Linked DNA regions of Homo sapiens: region 1 is linked to region 2. A link means that fine-mapping ties the variant in region 2 to the expression of a gene that starts in the linked region. Tissue or cell type: whole blood. Region 2 holds a variant in brackets; the other region holds the start of a gene. All regions are shown on one strand. Distances are between the middles of the regions.

The links. PIP is the estimated chance that this variant, and not a neighbour inherited with it, causes the effect.
Region 1: it holds the start of MED19, and the variant in region 2 is fine-mapped to the expression of MED19 in whole blood (TOPMed, PIP above 0.99).

The regions. Positions count from the first base shown.
Region 1 is chr11:57,707,866-57,715,962 of GRCh38, forward strand. MED19 (mediator complex subunit 19) reads right to left here and starts at 4,350. Exons shown (of 5, transcript NM_001317078.4): 1 at 4,098-4,350. The coding sequence starts at 4,314. TMX2 (thioredoxin related transmembrane protein 2) reads left to right here and starts at 4,728. Exons shown (of 8, transcript NM_015959.4): 1 at 4,728-4,942. The coding sequence starts at 4,754. It overlaps TMX2-CTNND1 (TMX2-CTNND1 readthrough (NMD candidate)), which reads left to right and starts at 4,658. Exons shown (of 21, transcript NR_037646.1): 1 at 4,658-4,942. RefSeq lists a silencer at 3,981-4,320 and an enhancer at 7,688-8,097.
Region 2 is chr11:57,972,228-57,980,332 of GRCh38, forward strand. No RefSeq gene overlaps it. Among named protein-coding and RNA genes, the nearest start is that of OR9Q1, 48 kb to the right of the region's middle. RefSeq lists a silencer at 6,550-6,844. The variant A/G (reference allele first, on the strand shown) is at 3,269.

The DNA of each region.
Region 1 (8,097 bases), 260 kb before region 2:
TCTGTCACCCAGGCTGGAGTGTAATGGCACAATCTTAGCTCACTGCAATCTCTGCATCCTGGGCTCAAACTACTTTCCTGCCTCAGCCTCCCAGGTAGCTGGGACTACATGCATACACTGCCATGCTAGGCTAATTTTTGTATTTTTTGTAGAGACAGGGGTCTCCCTATGTTGCCCAGGCTGGTCTTGAACTCCTGGACTCAAGCTATCTGCCTGCCTCAGCCTCCCAAAGTGCTAGGATTACAGGCGTGAACCACCCTGCCCAACAAGATAAAAAAAAAAAAAATTGTTTTGAAATTCCAAATCTTGCCAACATCACTCAGGGCTTCTCTATTTCAATCCATGGCACCCACATGTTCCAGATATTTTTGGAAATCAGTACTCCTCAGTTCACAAATCTTAATGGTTTCTTTTTGCCCTCAGGAGAAAGCTCAAATTCCTTTGACTGGCACTCAAGGCTAATTACATCTTACTCCAACTTAGCTTTGGGGCCTCATCAACCACTACTCTCCTATGCAAAATTTCTGATCCATCCAAATGGATCTCCTTATCGCCTCAAAAAAACACCCCTCACATTATTTCATCTTAGGAAAATTCTTCCTAATTTTTCTTCACCAATATGGATTATTCAAGGTCTAGCTCAAGTGACATCTTATTCTCACTGTCATTCTGGATAGCAACACACTTTGAAAACCATTAGGTAGTTCTTAATATTGATGGCTAAGATATTGTTAATTGCTGTTGTGAGGCATGAGCACAAAATGAGATGGAGGTGACAGGAAATATAGTCACTATCCTTAAACCACAAATTTTACATTCCTAACTAAACTCCTTGAAAAGCAATGACCAGCATTACTAATCTCTCTCTCCATCTCACCCGCCTCATACACCCAGCATTTGCCCAGAACATATATTCAATATCTGTCAACTGACTGATACAAATAGCTACAATCAGAATAGGGAAGGCAAAAGAAAGATTAAAAGAAACCGCTGGTGGACATCAACCACTAACTAATCAAAGGGATGTCAACTTCTCCATGTTTCAGTTTTTTCAATTATAAAATGTAGACAGTAATGCTACCTCAAAGGGCTATTCTAAGTATTAAATACTACTTATATTAAATACTGCATGTAAGTGTGTTGTGAACTTCAAAGTACTATACCAATATTTGTTGCTATTTCCCTCAAGTCATGATGTGGAAATAAGACTTGAGACAATGAAAGGCATCTGGGAGGCTGGGCGCAGTGGCTCACGCCTGTAATCCTGGCACTCTGGGAGGCCAAGGTGGGCGGATCACCTGAGGTTGGGAGTTTGAGATCTGCCTGACCAACAGGGAGAAACCCTGTCTCCACTAAAAATAAAAAATTAGCTGGGTGTGGTGGCACATGCCTGTAATCCGAACTACTCGGGAGGCTGAGGCAGGAGAATCGCTTGAACCTGGGAGGCGGAGGTTGTGGTGAGCTGAGATTGTGCCATTGCACTCCAGCCTGGGCAACAAGAGCAAAACTCTGTTTAAAAAAAAAAAAAAAAGAGGCATCTTGGAGACCAAACATGTCCAAAATAACTCTTGATTTCCACCTCTTCAAACTTGTTCCTTCCTCATCTTCCAAGTCTCCGTACCCATACACCCAATTATTCAAGCCGAAAACTTAAAAAGGCATCAATTCCTCTATTTCCTTCACTTCTATATACAATATATATTTTTAATTGAGACAGGGTCTTCCTCTATCATCCAAGCTGGAGTGCAGTGGCACAATCATGGCTCACTGCAGCCTCAACTTCCTGGGCTCAAGTGATTTCTACCACCTCATCTTCCTAGGTAGCTGAGACTACAGGTGCATGCTGCTATCCCTAGCTAATTTATTTTTATTTTTTGTAGAGATGGGGTCTCATTATGTTGCCCAGGCTGGTCTCAAACTTTTGGGCTCAAGCAATCCTCCCACCTCAGCCTCCCAAAGTGCTGGGATTACTGGCGTGAGCCACAGCGCCTGGCCCTGTATTCAATTTTTCAACCCTGTCAGCTCTACCTCTAACATCCTGTATCCATTTACTTCTCTATGCCCTGCTATGCTCTGGTTCAAACCATTATCTTTCCTGGACTACTGAGCAGTAACTTCTGACTAATTTCCCCACTTTCTATTTGTCATGTGGCTGCTTAAATGATTATAAACAAGTGCATTTGACCAACTTCCTATGTTAAAATGGCTTTCCTTGGCTGGGCACAGTGGCTCAGACCTATAATCCTAGCACTTTGGGAGGCCAAGGCGGGAGGACTGCTGTTGGCCAGGAGTTCAAGACCAGCTTGCGCAACACAGTAAGACCCAGTCTCTACAAAAAAATTTTAAGTTAGCCAACTGTGGTGGTGCATGCCTGTAGTCCTAGCTACTTGGAAGGCTGAGGTGGGACGACAGCATGAGCCTAGGAACTGGAGGTTACAGTGAGCTATGATTATACCACTGCAGTCCAGCCTGGGTGACACAGTGAGACCTTGTGTCTATAAAAAAATTTTTTAAATGGCTTCCTTTTGTATTTACAATCTAAATGCCTTTACTGCTTTATAAAAGCCTCTGCCTAACTCTCCCAGCTTCATCTCTCTCCCTAACACTCTTTCCTTTTGTTCACTTCACTGGAGTCCAACTGATTTTCTGTCCCTCAGATATTCTAAGCTTTTTCTCACATCAGGGTTTCTGACCTCATTTCTTGTATCTACAATTGTCTCTCCCTCCTGTCCATACATGGCTGGCCCTTTGTCTATGCTTACATTTTAGTTCAAATGTTAGCTATGTGAAGAGAGCATCTCTGGCCACTCTAGCTAAAGTAGTTCTGCCCCTCAATTTTTTTTTTTTAAGAGACAGGGTCTCATCTGTTGCCCAGGCTGGAGTGCAGTGGCACAATCTTGGTTCACTGCAGCCTCGACCTCCTGTGTTCAAGCGATTCTCCTCCCTTAGCCTCCTGAGTAGCTGGGGCTACAGGCATGCATTACCACGCCCGGTTAATCTTGTATATTTTGTAGAGACTGGGTCTCGCCATGTTGCCCATGCTGGTCTCAAACTCCTGGGCTCAAGGGATTCTGCCTCGGCCTCCCAAAGCGCTGGGATTACAGGCGTGAGCAACGCGCCTGGCCACCTTCAATTTTTATCATGTTTTCTTTTCCTAGCATTAACCACTTTCTGACATTATCTTGTTTACAATGCCTCCTCCACTGAAATGTACATCCCAAAAAAGGCAAGCATCTTGTCAGTCTTGTTCACAACTGTCTCCAGCATTTAGAAAAGTGCTTGGTACATAGGTACTCAACAAAATAATTTTTTGAATGAAGAGTTTGGTTCGATTCTTATCCCTTTTTTGATCAGACCAGGAAATGCCGGAACCTTAGAAGGAAGAATGGCAACTTGCCCCAAACCAATAGCAAGTCTGTGGGAGACCTGTAACTAAAACTTTGGGTCCCCAAAGATATTAAATCAGGCCTCTCGAGTTCCAAACTCAAACCCTGGATTTTGTTTGTTTTGAGACGGAGTCTCGTTCGCCCAGGCTGGAGTGCAGTGGAGCAATGTCGGCTCTCTGCAACCTCCGCCTCCCGGGGTTCAAACGATTCTCCCGCCTCAGCCTCCCGAGTAGCTGGAATTAAAGGTATACGCCACCACGCCCAGGTAATTTTTGTGTTTTTTGTGGAGACAGGGTTTCATCATGTTGGCCAGGCCGGTCTCGAACTCCTGACCTTAGGTGATTCGCCCGCCTCCGCCTCCCAGAGTGTTGGGATTACAGGCGTGAGCCACCGCGCCCAGCCCTAGGTCATTTTTTAGAGAGACATAAACCAGTGTCAGGGACACAGCCTGGACATGGTGCAAAAGACAGTAACGGAGATGCACTACGCCCCTGCCCGCCATTCATCCCTTTGGTTGAATTCAACTCATCCTGGTTGAATTCAAGTCATCCCTCTGCTTGTGAATCCTAACAGCGCTTCCGACTTAGGGCTCCACAGTCCGGGTATGCGTTGCCTAGGTTACCTCGCACCTCCGCTAGCCGGCTGAGAGCCACGCCCATCACCTCCTCTCTAAGATTTGATTGGCTGGCTTTGGCAAGGCCGAGTACTCACCTGGCAGTTCCCTCATGAGGTAAAAAGGGCCACAGCCAGCTCCTGACTTGTCCGCGCCAGGAGGAGCCGTGGCCGCGGTGGGAGGCGGGGCCGTGCCGGGTCCCCCGCCCGCAGGAGGCGGTGGCGGGGGTGGAGGCTTTCCTGGTCCGAAGCCGAGTGCGGTTGGGGGCGGTGGTGGGTCAGCCTGAGCCCCAAACAGTGCCGTGAAATTCTCCATCGTACCCTCCGCCCCGGCGCTGTCTCCGTGTCTGCCGTTGGTAATTTTCATTGGACAATGCTTTCAAGGAGTACCCCCCCGCCCTTTCTCAAGGAGCCGCTTGTCATTGGATGCCTCAGGCACCGCCTACCTTTTTTCAACAACTACTTCCGTCGCCTTATGAGAACGTTCAGGAAGTGCTATTTAACCTTATTAGAGTCTTCTGCTAGCTCTGCTTGCTACAGTCCAATAAAATGACTTAGGCGGATAAAGCGACAACTAGACTAACCAATAAAATATTAAGTTCTTTTTTGGGTTCTGACCTACCACAGCGTTCAGAGAACTACATCCGGGTTTAGAGGCCGTACGTTTGCGATATAGCCCAATAGCAGTCGTTATGGTGGGGGAGGCGGGGCGAGACCTACGACGCCGGCGAGCAGTGGCCGTTACGGCCGAAAAGATGGCGGTCTTGGCACCTCTAATTGCTCTCGTGTATTCGGTGCCGCGACTTTCACGATGGCTCGCCCAACCTTACTACCTTCTGTCGGCCCTGCTCTCTGCTGCCTTCCTACTCGTGAGGAAACTGCCGCCGCTCTGCCACGGTCTGCCCACCCAACGCGAAGACGGTAACCCGTGTGACTTTGACTGGGTGAGCCTCCCGCGTGTTAGTACCCCGCGACCTTGACTGTCCCTGCCCTTGCAGGTGTATCTGGGAACCCTGGGGTTTACCTCTCTGAGGACACCTGAGGTTCCGAGCCTGTAGCGGACTTAGAGACTATTAAGTGCAGGGTCCGAACCATCATCGAGTCTAAACTTTGTGTTTAAGATGGGAAAACGGAACATGTTAGTCGTAGCCCATGCACAACGGCCCAACAGCTTTTGACTGTTGAGTCCAGGTTTCTTTCTGTTTCACCATTGAGACTAATTAACAGCCCTATCAAAACTGTACATACACGTGTATAACGTTTTACAGTGCCGCTCATTATGTAAAGCCTCCTGAGGAGCCAGTAAGGTAGACAAGGCAAGTAGTAATATTCCTGTTTCATTGGTGAAGAAATGGATCTCGGTATATTTAGGTGACTTGCCCCAGGTCATACAACTAATGAGTGCCTGGGACTTGAAACTACTCTTCTGGCCACACTACCTGCACAACACTGTCAGCCGCTTCTTAATTCAATAAACATTTCTAGAGTGTACACTCTAGGCACTCTGCTTGATCCTGAAGATGCGAAAGTGGATAAAATTTGGGGGCTACTGTAAAGGAATTGTAAAAAATACGTTGTAAAGAAATCTTTGGGATTTCTTTGGGAAGTGTCCCAAGCTCCTTGCTGTGCTTCCTTGGTATGGGTGGAGGGACTGCTCGGAACATAAACTTAAAGCACTTTCCCTTCTGCCATATAGCATGTAGGGGCCAAGGAAAAGCTTCCCCTTTGCTCTCTGAGGGTTTGTTGAAAAATCAACCGACAAAGGGCACATTAATAGGAGAAAGGCATAGAAATTTTATTTTAACGTGCATAGCATGAGGGAATTGCAGGAGAATGACCCAGTGGGGTACAGATGCTTATATACCCTCTTTCATAGGAATATGGGAGATGGGAAAATGTGGGTGATTTTAAGGTGGATCGTAAATGATTTTTAGGGTGATTCAGTGGCCTGGAGAACATACAGTGGCCTGGGACAATGACTGTTGGGCCTGCAGAGCAGACAATGGTTTCTGACAAAAATCTGTCCAGGTGTGTTGACAGGCTTCCATCTTTCTTCTTGTACTGAAGTAAGTTAATGAAAACTCAGGGAAGAGACCAGAAGTAATTGTTGTCTTCTTTGACAGGTCTGGACTTTAGGCAGATAAGGTAGTTATCAGAGTAAAGCTGCTTCCAGTATCTGCTGGTTTCCAGGGACCTTTAATTTAAAATGATTAGCATACAGGATGCCATATTTTGGGGTGTGAGTCCCTGGTCTTCTTTATTTCCTTTGTCTGAAACTTCCTTAGAAGTTTCACTATAAGCTGAGTTGGTGTCTGTGGAGAGAGAAATCGGGCTAGTAATTGAGCGGCAAAGGATCCCATTAAACCAGCCTCTCATTTTGGGGGATAGTCCAGTTCAATTAAATTGTTGTGTCTCATTTCAGAAGATGGCATTGTAGATGAGTTCTCAAAGCTAGGCCTCTGTATATGATGTAGGCAAACAGGTATTTAATAAGAGAGACATTTCTATGGAACAAGACAAACAAAGCTTAATATCTGGTATAGTCTATAAACTAGTTTCTTTAGAGTCTGGAGGGCAGTCAATTGGGAAGATTAATAGCAATCTATTTTCCTAGATTGTAGGTTGTGTGTAAAGTTTGTCCAAATATAAGCTTTTGTGGTGATTTTTTTTTCAAAGTCACGTTGACTAGCTTTAGCTGGTAAGGCCTTAGGAAAAAGGCAGGGTTTTTAGTTTTTTGGATTTTTTTTTGAGACAAGGTCTTGCTCTGTCATCCAAGCTGGAGTGCAGTGATGTGATCATGGCTCACTGTAGTCTTAACCTCCTGGGCAAAGCCATCCTGCCACCTCAGCTTTCCAGGTAGCTGGAACCAAAGGCATGCACTACACACCTGGCTAATTTTTAAAAATTTTTTTTCAAGGTGGGGTCTCTTGATGTTGCCCAGGCTGGTCTTGAACTCCTGAGCTCAAGGGATCCTCCTGACTTGGCTTCCTAAGGAGCTGGGATTTACAGGTGTGAGCCACTGCGCCAAGCTAAAAAAGGCCGTTTTAATTTTTAGTGATTCTAAGTCAGAAGAGTGGGTGAAAAATGGAAAACATTAGTCTGGAGGTTAGCAATTTTATGAGTCCAGTTTTATTTTCATTAGACTTTGGAAATTTTTACCCAGTCCGGTGATACAGTTTCAAAGTTATCAGAAACCTTTATTTGTCAGCATTCTTCCCATGCTTTCCATGATCCTCCTTGAAAATAAGACACTTGGCCAGGCATGGTGGCTCACATCTGTAATCCCAGCACTTTGGGAGGCTGAGGCGGGTGGATTTCCTGAGCTCAGGAGTTCGAGACCAGCCTGGCCAACATGGTGTAACCCCGTCTCTACTAAAAATACAAAAAATTAGCTGGGTGTGGTGGTGGGTGCCTGTAATCCCAGCTACTCTGGAGGCTAAGGCAGGAGAATCACTTGAACCTGAGAGGCAGAGGTTGCAGTGAGCCAGGATCGTGCCATTGCACTCCAGCCTGGGCAACAAGAGCAAAGTTCTGTCTCAAAATAAATAAATAAATAAAATTAAAAAAATATATTTTATATATAATATATATGTATTAATGTGCTTTTAATACTAAAGCTGATTTTAATAAACTTTACAAACAAATCTGTCTAATCTTGATCAGCTTTGACTAGACAAGATAAAATTTCCATAAACCTTTTATAACCTCTTAGAATTTGTTTTCTTTTTTTTTTCTTTTATTGATCATTCTTGGGTGTTTCTCGCAGAGGGGGACTTGGCAGGGTCATAGGACAATAGTGGAGGGAAGGTTGGCAGATAAACAAGTGAACAAAGGTCTCTGGTTTTCCTAGGCAGAGGACCCTGCCGCCTTCCGCAGTGTTTGTGTCCCTGGGTACTTGAGATTAGGGAGTGGTGATGATTCTTAACGAGCATGCTGCCTTCAAGCATCTGTTTAACAAAGCACATCTTGCACCGCCCTTAATCCATTTAACCCTGAGTGGACACAGCACATGTTTCAGAGAGCACAGGGTTGGGGGTAAGGTCACCGATCAACAGGATCCCAAGGCAGAAGAATTTATCTTAGTACAGAACAAAATGAA
Region 2 (8,105 bases):
GCTATTCTTGTAACTCAGATGTGACTGGGCACCATGAGTAGTCTCTGTTCTTGACCCTACACCCACCTTGAGGCAGGATCTTTGTTATCATTTCCCAAAAATCCAGTGCAACCAAGGATTAATGAGTAATGACAATTTTACTGAAAATTTCTTGGGGAGACTGAAAAGCTGTCTGTGTCCCGGGGAGGTAGTTTTGATCTATGGCAAAACCTAATAAAAATTCCCAGGAGACATATATGCTTTCTTTCCAAAGAGGAAAGGTTTCACATTTCCTTTATCTCTTTTCTCTGTGTTCTTGGGCAAACAATCTCATTTCTTTCAAGGTTTCCAGGCTCTCAGCCTGTCATCTATTCCTCTGGAAAAACGAAGGACCACTCCCTTCAGAAGGGAGCTAGAATGTGGGGTGTGAGGACCGCTTGTAAGTAGTTGATAATTCACCCCCAGGCATTTGATAATCCAATTTGCCCTCAGAGGGATGAATGGAGTAAAGGAAAAGAGAGACCCTGTGGTACCCCTCTTATGTCTCCAGGACTGGGATTCCCCCAGAGGAACCGGCTCCTCTTGGACACAGTTCCTCAGTTTATAGCCCTCTTTGCACTGTGTATGCTGAGGGGAGTGGGCTGTGCTTGAAGATTTGATGGGTCCCACCTGGTAGGTAGCTTTATGATCAAACAAACAAACAAACAAACAAACAAAAAACAAGAGAAAGGGAAGGATTTCCAGCTTGGACCCTCAGCCACTTCCTTCCTCCTCTGAGCCACTGACTGTGCCTGAACCTCAAAAAGGAACATGCTTGAATTCCCCACATCTTTCCACCTTGCCCTTGAGGTGATGACCCTGAGACCTGCCTTAAACAAAGAAGTCATAATAAAGCACCTCCACCCCAGCCCTGACGCTGCTGCATCTCATTGCAGTCTCTTCCCCCAGGCAGACATTTCTTTCATTTCTCTCTATGTTATTTTTGAATTCAACTGAAAAATAGAAGCCACATGTACACAATTACTAAGCATTTTAGTTCATCTTCAAAGATGTTCATGGACTGTTCACTGACTGCTCTTTGTCTTTACCTTTGGAGTCTGTTTCCTATTGCTGTTGAGTGCATCGTCATCCCTCCTTACCCTGATATACACATTTTGCCACTGAATCATAGATTGATTGAATGACTTATTCATTCATTCGTCAAATGTTATTGAGCACTCACTATGTGCCAGGCTGTGTTCTAGGCATTGGGGATATAGTGACAAATAAGAATGAGATGATTCCTGTTCTCATGGCTCTTAGGTTGTGATGAGAAAGGCCAGTATAAACAAATGAGAATGTATCAATCAGTGATAAATTCTTTGAAGAAAATCAACCAAGAATGACAGACAGGACTGTGTTAGGATGTACTCACATTGGGTGAATAAAGAAGGTCTTGGCTGGGCGCAGTGGCTCATGCCTGTAATCCCAGCACTTTGGGAGGCCGAGGTGGGTGGATCACCTGAGGTCAGGAGTTCAAGACAAGCCTGACAAACATGGTAAAACCTCATCTCTACTAAAAATACAAAAATTAGCCAGGCATGGTGGCGGGTGCCTGTAGTCCCAGCCACTTGGGAGGCTGAGGCAGGAGAATGGCTTGAACCCGGGAGGTGGAGGCTGCAGTGAGCCGAGATCATGCCTCCGCATTCCAGCTGGAGTGACAGAGCAAGACTGTCTCAAAAAAAAAAAAAAAAAAAAAGGTCTTTATAATGAGGCGCATTTGTGATTTCAACTTTTAGAGTTTACAAAATAAATTTAGCCTTTACCTTTTACTCCTTCCTCTGAGAGTTTGAATTTATGAGTTGGTGTTCTAATGGAGTTGGTATTCTTATAGATAACTCCATCTCAGAGGTAAATATAAATCTAGAACTGGGATTGGCTAATGTCTTTTGTAAAGGGCCAGATAATACACATTTTTGACTTTGCAGGCTATCTAGTCTTGTCACAACTATAGAACTTCGTTGTTGATAGCATGAGGGAGGCTGCTATGTTCCAATGCAAATTTGTTTATAAAAATAGGGGCAGGCCATGTGTGGTCCACTAACCACAGTGTATGGGCCTCTGATCTAGACTGCACTTTGTCTTTATTTACTTCAAAGTGACAGCAGCAGCCCCTTTCCTTCAAGGAGAAAGATCCCTCCCCTAAATAGTCCTTTGCTTTAATTTTTCTTAATTAAAAGAAAATTTAAAAATTAAATTAAAAGAAAATTTCAAATTAAGATGGACTAATTCAGAAAATTTATACAATATACAAGAAAAAGAAGTAAAATAGTGAAAATCTTATCCTTACCTTCAAACACTCTAAGAATAACCACTGTTAATAGTTTGATATATGTTTTTTCAGATTTTAAATGTGTGTGTATATATATCATATATAACATATATGTTACATATATAACATATCTATTACATATATTATATATTACATATAACATATATATGATATATATACATACAGACATCCACAGACAGGGGTTTTGTTTTTGTTTTTTTTTCTTTCCTTCCTTTTGCTTTTCTTTTCTACCTTTCTTTTCCTCTCCCTCTCCCTTCTTTTCTCCCCTGCCTCCTTTTCTTTCTCCACTCCTCCCTTTTTGCTTTCTAACACATATGGTATCATTCCGAAATACTGTTCCGCAACTTGCTTCCTTCACCCCGCATTACATCACTGTATGCCTGTTTGGGTTGGAGAGGCGCACATTCCACAGTTGGTGCCCTGTTGTTGCCAAACGACATGACGTGAGTGTCGGATTATTTTCGGTGAGTGGTGTTAGAAGCAGGTGCGAGTGCAGGCCTTATGCATCTCCACCCACACAAGCTTGCTGCTGCCGGAGTGTTGGTATGAGAGCAAGTCTCAGACCAAATGCCAGCAACTGTACAGTCCTTTCTTGGCTCGCAGGCATGAACAGCTGGTCTGGAGTTTGGAAGGGGGCTCTGCTTGTGTGGTCAGCCACGCTGACCAGCACTGTAATGAAAATCTCGTTCTAAAGCAGATACCCGCTTACAGCAGGATGGGCAAACTCCTCCAAAAAGTAGAGAAATGGGCCCAAGTGACTTTAGCCCAAGCATCCTCTCCCCATGTAAACTGTTGGGCTTGCCTTAATTTAAAAAAATACGTTATTCATGGAAGGGCCATGAGCCTTGTTACACAATTCTAAGTGAATCACAGATTAGCCCCCACTTCCTTTTTTAGAAAAAGGGAAAGGATAATATAAAAATACCCACATATCTTCTCTCCAGATTCACAGTTATT[A/G]ACATTTTCCCACATTTGCTTTGCCTACTTTTCTTTCTAAGAAATAATATATACATATATTTACCTACACACATACATAAGTCATGAACATATATGGGTCTATATTTTTAAATTTTTATTTTATTTTTAATTGTGGTTATAAACGTATCACATTAAATTTACTATCTTAACTATTTTTGTGTCCAGTTCAATAGTGTGAAGTATATTCACATTGTTGTGCAACAGATCTCTAGAACTTTTTCATTTTGCAAAACTGAAACTTGATGGCCAGAAACAAACTAATTCTCCTTCTCCACTCTCCCCGTCCTTGGCAACCACTTTCTTACTTTCTGTTTTTATAATTTTGACTACTTTAGATATCTCATGTGAGTGGAAAAGTGCTGTATTTGTGCTTTTGTGACTAGCTTATATAACTTAGCATAATGTCCTCAAGGTTTATGCATGTTGAATGTGACAGGGATTTCCTTCTTTTTAAAGGCTGCGTAATACTCCATTTTAATGCATATACCACGTTTTCTTTATCCATTCATCTGTTGATGAACATGTGAGTTTATGCTTATGTATCTTTTTCCAAACTACTTGAAAGTAGTTGGAACATTATGATGCTTTACCCTTAAACACTTCACCTTAAATACTAGCTGCTAAGAAGAAGGCCATTCTCTTACATAACCACAATTACATGATCATGTTTAAGAAATTTAATATGCAGTCTATACTCAAATTCAAATTTTCCCAATTGTTTTAATAATAAAATAATATATCTATTTATTTTGAATCTAAGGTCCAATCAGGGATTATTCATTGCATTTAGTTATCGTGTCCATTAGTTTTTAAATTTAATTTTAATCTAGATTTTTAAAACTTTTATTTTGGAATACTGAAAGTTCTGAAGAGTCCAGACCAGTGTTTTTGCATAATGCTCTATAATTTAAACTTCTCGAATTTTTCCCTATGATTAGATTTAGGCTAGATATTTTTGGCAAGAACTCTACACAGATAATGTGTTCTTCTCATGTAGGAGACACAAAATGTCATTTTTTCCCCATTACTGGTGGTATTAATTTGTTTACATAATTAAGTTGATGTCTGCCAGATTTTATTTCCATTAGGTATCTTTTTCTCTTTGTTATTAAAAAGCGACCTGTGGGGTGATACTCTGAGACTGATTTAGCACCCATTGATAATCCTAACCTGCATCAATCATCACATTGGTGGTTTCGAAGTAAACCGTGTCTTAAACTTTAATTTCTCTAGTGAAAGTTATTTCTAATATTCTTTATGCCAATCAGCTAGCCCTAAGAGGCTGAATAAAATTAACTTTCACACACACCACACTACTCATCCTGATGTAGTTCCTAGTAAATCACTATGAATAACATTTAACACCTATTTGACCTATTTACTGGGTGATCTGAAAAGCCACCAGGTTTGATGAGAGCTGGGCCAGGGGAAAGCATCTCCAGGGGGTAAAAGCTTTTAAGTTGATTGGCTCTGCAGCTAGGCTCTTAAGACCCAGCAAATTTTGTAAGCTGCATGGGACAAATTGGCTTGCTAGGATTTTGGAGGAAAGTCACCTCTTTCAGCAAAGAACTTTTTTCTTTTTTTTAAAAAAAAAAAAAAAAAAGGAAATAACCCCTGACTTGCAATTGGGCTGTACTCTGGTCTGAATATTTGTGTCTCCTGCAAATCCACATGCTGAAATCCTAACCCCCAAGGTGGTGGTATTAGAAGGTGGGGCCTTTTAGAGGTAGTTAGGTCACAAGGGTGAAGTCCTCATGAGTGAGATTAATGCCCTTATAATAAAAGAGACCCCAGAGAGCTGCCTTGTCCCTTCCACCATGTGAGGACACAGCAAGAAGCTGGCAGTCTGCAATCCAGGGGCAGGCCCTCACCAGAACCTGACCGTGCTGGCACCTGATCTTGAACTTCCCAATCTCCAGAATTGGAAGAAATAAATTTCTGTTGTTATGAGCCCCTCAGTCTCAGGTATTTGGTTTTTATAGCAGCCCAAATAGACAAAGACACGCTCTGATGGTTAAGGGTTTGGAAGAAGCAAGACTGGGAAATGGCTGAGGAGGCCTGTGAAGGTGTCTGTGAACTGACCTCTCAGGTAAATGTGAAGTGAGGAGCTATTTGTGGCCCACATGAATGCTTGCCACAAGGCCTTGATACAGAGGGGGCCTTTGTGACTACGTAAGTAGGATGGATGGCCCACTCTGTGAGATGTTAGACTCCTTTCCCAGATATCCCAATGCTCACAAAAATTGGGGTATCCCAGATACCTCAGTGCTCACAAAGTGAGTGTGGTGGCAGGAAGGGAGGCTGTGCCTGTACTCAACAACCCTTTTCCTCTCACCAAGTCTGACCTGCTGTGGTGGAGTGCAGGGACTGTTGGCAGCAGTGGCCAAGTGGCCCTGAGCTCTTGGAATGCTGTGATAACTGGAGGGTGGGGGGAAGGGCAGCCAGCTCCCCAGAGGTAGATTAGCTGTATTGGATTCTTTCCACGATGGAGGAAGTAATGCTTTGTTTCCAAATACTCTGGGTTTGGGTTGGCTTTTGTTGCTTGCCTTAGCTCTGCCAGCACCACCATCCATATGCGAGTGGTTCTCAACCAGGGAAAATCTGGCTTTCAGGGAACACTTGACAATGTCTAGAGACATTCTGATTGTCATATCTTGGGAGGGGGATGCGGCTACTGGCATCTGGTTGGTAGATGTCAGGAATGCAGCCAAACATCTTACAGTGCCTAGGACAGCTCCACAACAAAGAATTATCTGGTTCAAAATGTCAAGAGTGTTGAGGTTGAGAAACCATTTTATTCCATCAAGGTGTCTTCCAGATATCTTAACTATAAAGGAACTTACCTGTAGTTAAAGAAAGAAAGGCAGCTGCGTGCAGTGGCTCACACCTGTATTCCCAGCACTTTGGGAGGCTGAGGCAGGTGGATCGCTTAAGGTAAGGAGCTCAAGACCAGCCCGGCGAACATGGTGAAACCCCATCTCTACTAATAATACAAAAATTAGCTGGGCATGGTGGTGGGTGCCTGTAATCCCAGCTACTCAGGAGGCTGAGGCAGGTGGATTGCTTGAACCTGGGAGGCCGAGGTTGCAGTGAGCTGAGATCGTGCAACTGCTCTCCAGCCTGAGTGACAAAGAGCAAGACTCCGTCCCCCCGACCCCCCACCCACCAACAAAAAAGGCAGTAGTATGTTTAGTAATTGTGTCCAGTTGCAAGTAACTGAAAATATGACTAAATGAGATTTTATTTTTCTCAAGTAAGTTCCCATCTTTGGTTCAGGTGCTTTGAAATGTCAAAGCTGAGGCTGATTGTGATTCTATTTGCTTTCCTTCTTACTGCAAGATGGTCCACTAGAATGTACACACAACAAGGGCAAGGATATTTGCTTACTGCTATATCGCCATAGCTTGGAAGAATGGCAGGTACTCATTAACTGACCATTTGCTGAGTGGAGCGCCAGGCAGCAGAAAAAGAAGAATATGCAAAAGAAGAGATAAGTTTCATGTTAGGAAAATAAAACAGTCCTAGAAAATCCACAGGCAACTTTCACTTGGGCTTCGCTGGCCAGATCTCAGGGACACCTGTAAGGGAGGCTGGAACATATAATTTTCAGCTTGGAATATTGCTGCCAGATACTCAAAAATATTGCTTTTCTGTAAGTAAGGAAGAAGTGGGGATGGATATCTAGTAGCAATAAAGACAATTTTTGATAGGTCTTGGACATGGGCTTGCAGACTTATCTCTAGGCAAGACCTTGAGCATGGAGAATGTGAGAGATTGCAAGATCAGGACCATAGAAATGAAAACTAGAGCAACTGCTTCTCAGAAGACTCATCAGAATCAGCAGAGAAACAGCCTGGTGGTAAACTTGTGACTGCTTCATGTCTGTGACTCAGACAGATGCCTTATTTGCATTCAATCTAATGAATCTGATGTTGACCACACAGTTTGAAAAAAACAAAAATAGACATAAAAGTTCAACAAATGACTTGAGCTGAGATTTATTACAGGTCAGTCTGAAACTAAGAAGATAGTACATTGTTTAAATCAGACAGCCTCACCTTCTTGGGAACTTTATGGCTTTTGCATTTACAAATCTTGCTCTTGTCTTTAGTTGGCGAGAGTGTCTACACAGGGTTCCTGGGCTTTATGTACACTCAGGATTAACTCTGATCCTAACCATGACCCTAGCCCTAGCCCTAACATTAGCCTTATCTCTAACCCTAACTCTAGCCCTAGCCCTAGTCTTAGCCCTAACCCTAACCCTAACTTTAGCCCAAGAAGGTAGGCTTGGTGCCTGCCTGTTTATGAATGATGAAACCTGCAAGGCTTAGGCTAATTGCCTCTGAGTTATTTTTGGCCCCAACCCACAGGACTGAATTTCTCTGTGTTGGATCATATTTTCCCTGCTTTGCCCAGCAGTAAACTCAGATTAACAATCACAGTGATTTAGAATTATTATTTTTTATTTTGTCAGCACCAATTAGGAGTGGCTGCCACAGTGGAGTTTTTCTGGTCAAACATGAGGGATTGAGCATATAATTTTACATGTGATTTCTTCCATGACTCCACTAAAATATTGGCAAAAGGAAAAAAGGTACAAATCTATAAGGACAAAGGGAGCATAAAAGGACAGCAGAGCACCTGGGAGATGAAGAAAGCTAACTCTTAAATCCCTACAGAAGGGAAGGGATGAGCTAGCAAGACATTAGTTAAGTCTCACTGCAGAACTCCCCAAAGACTCAGGAGCTGGAGACATAAGCTATTCTAGAGGCAGGGGTAGGCTGGGGCTAAAAACAGGAAGATGCTTGAAAGTCTG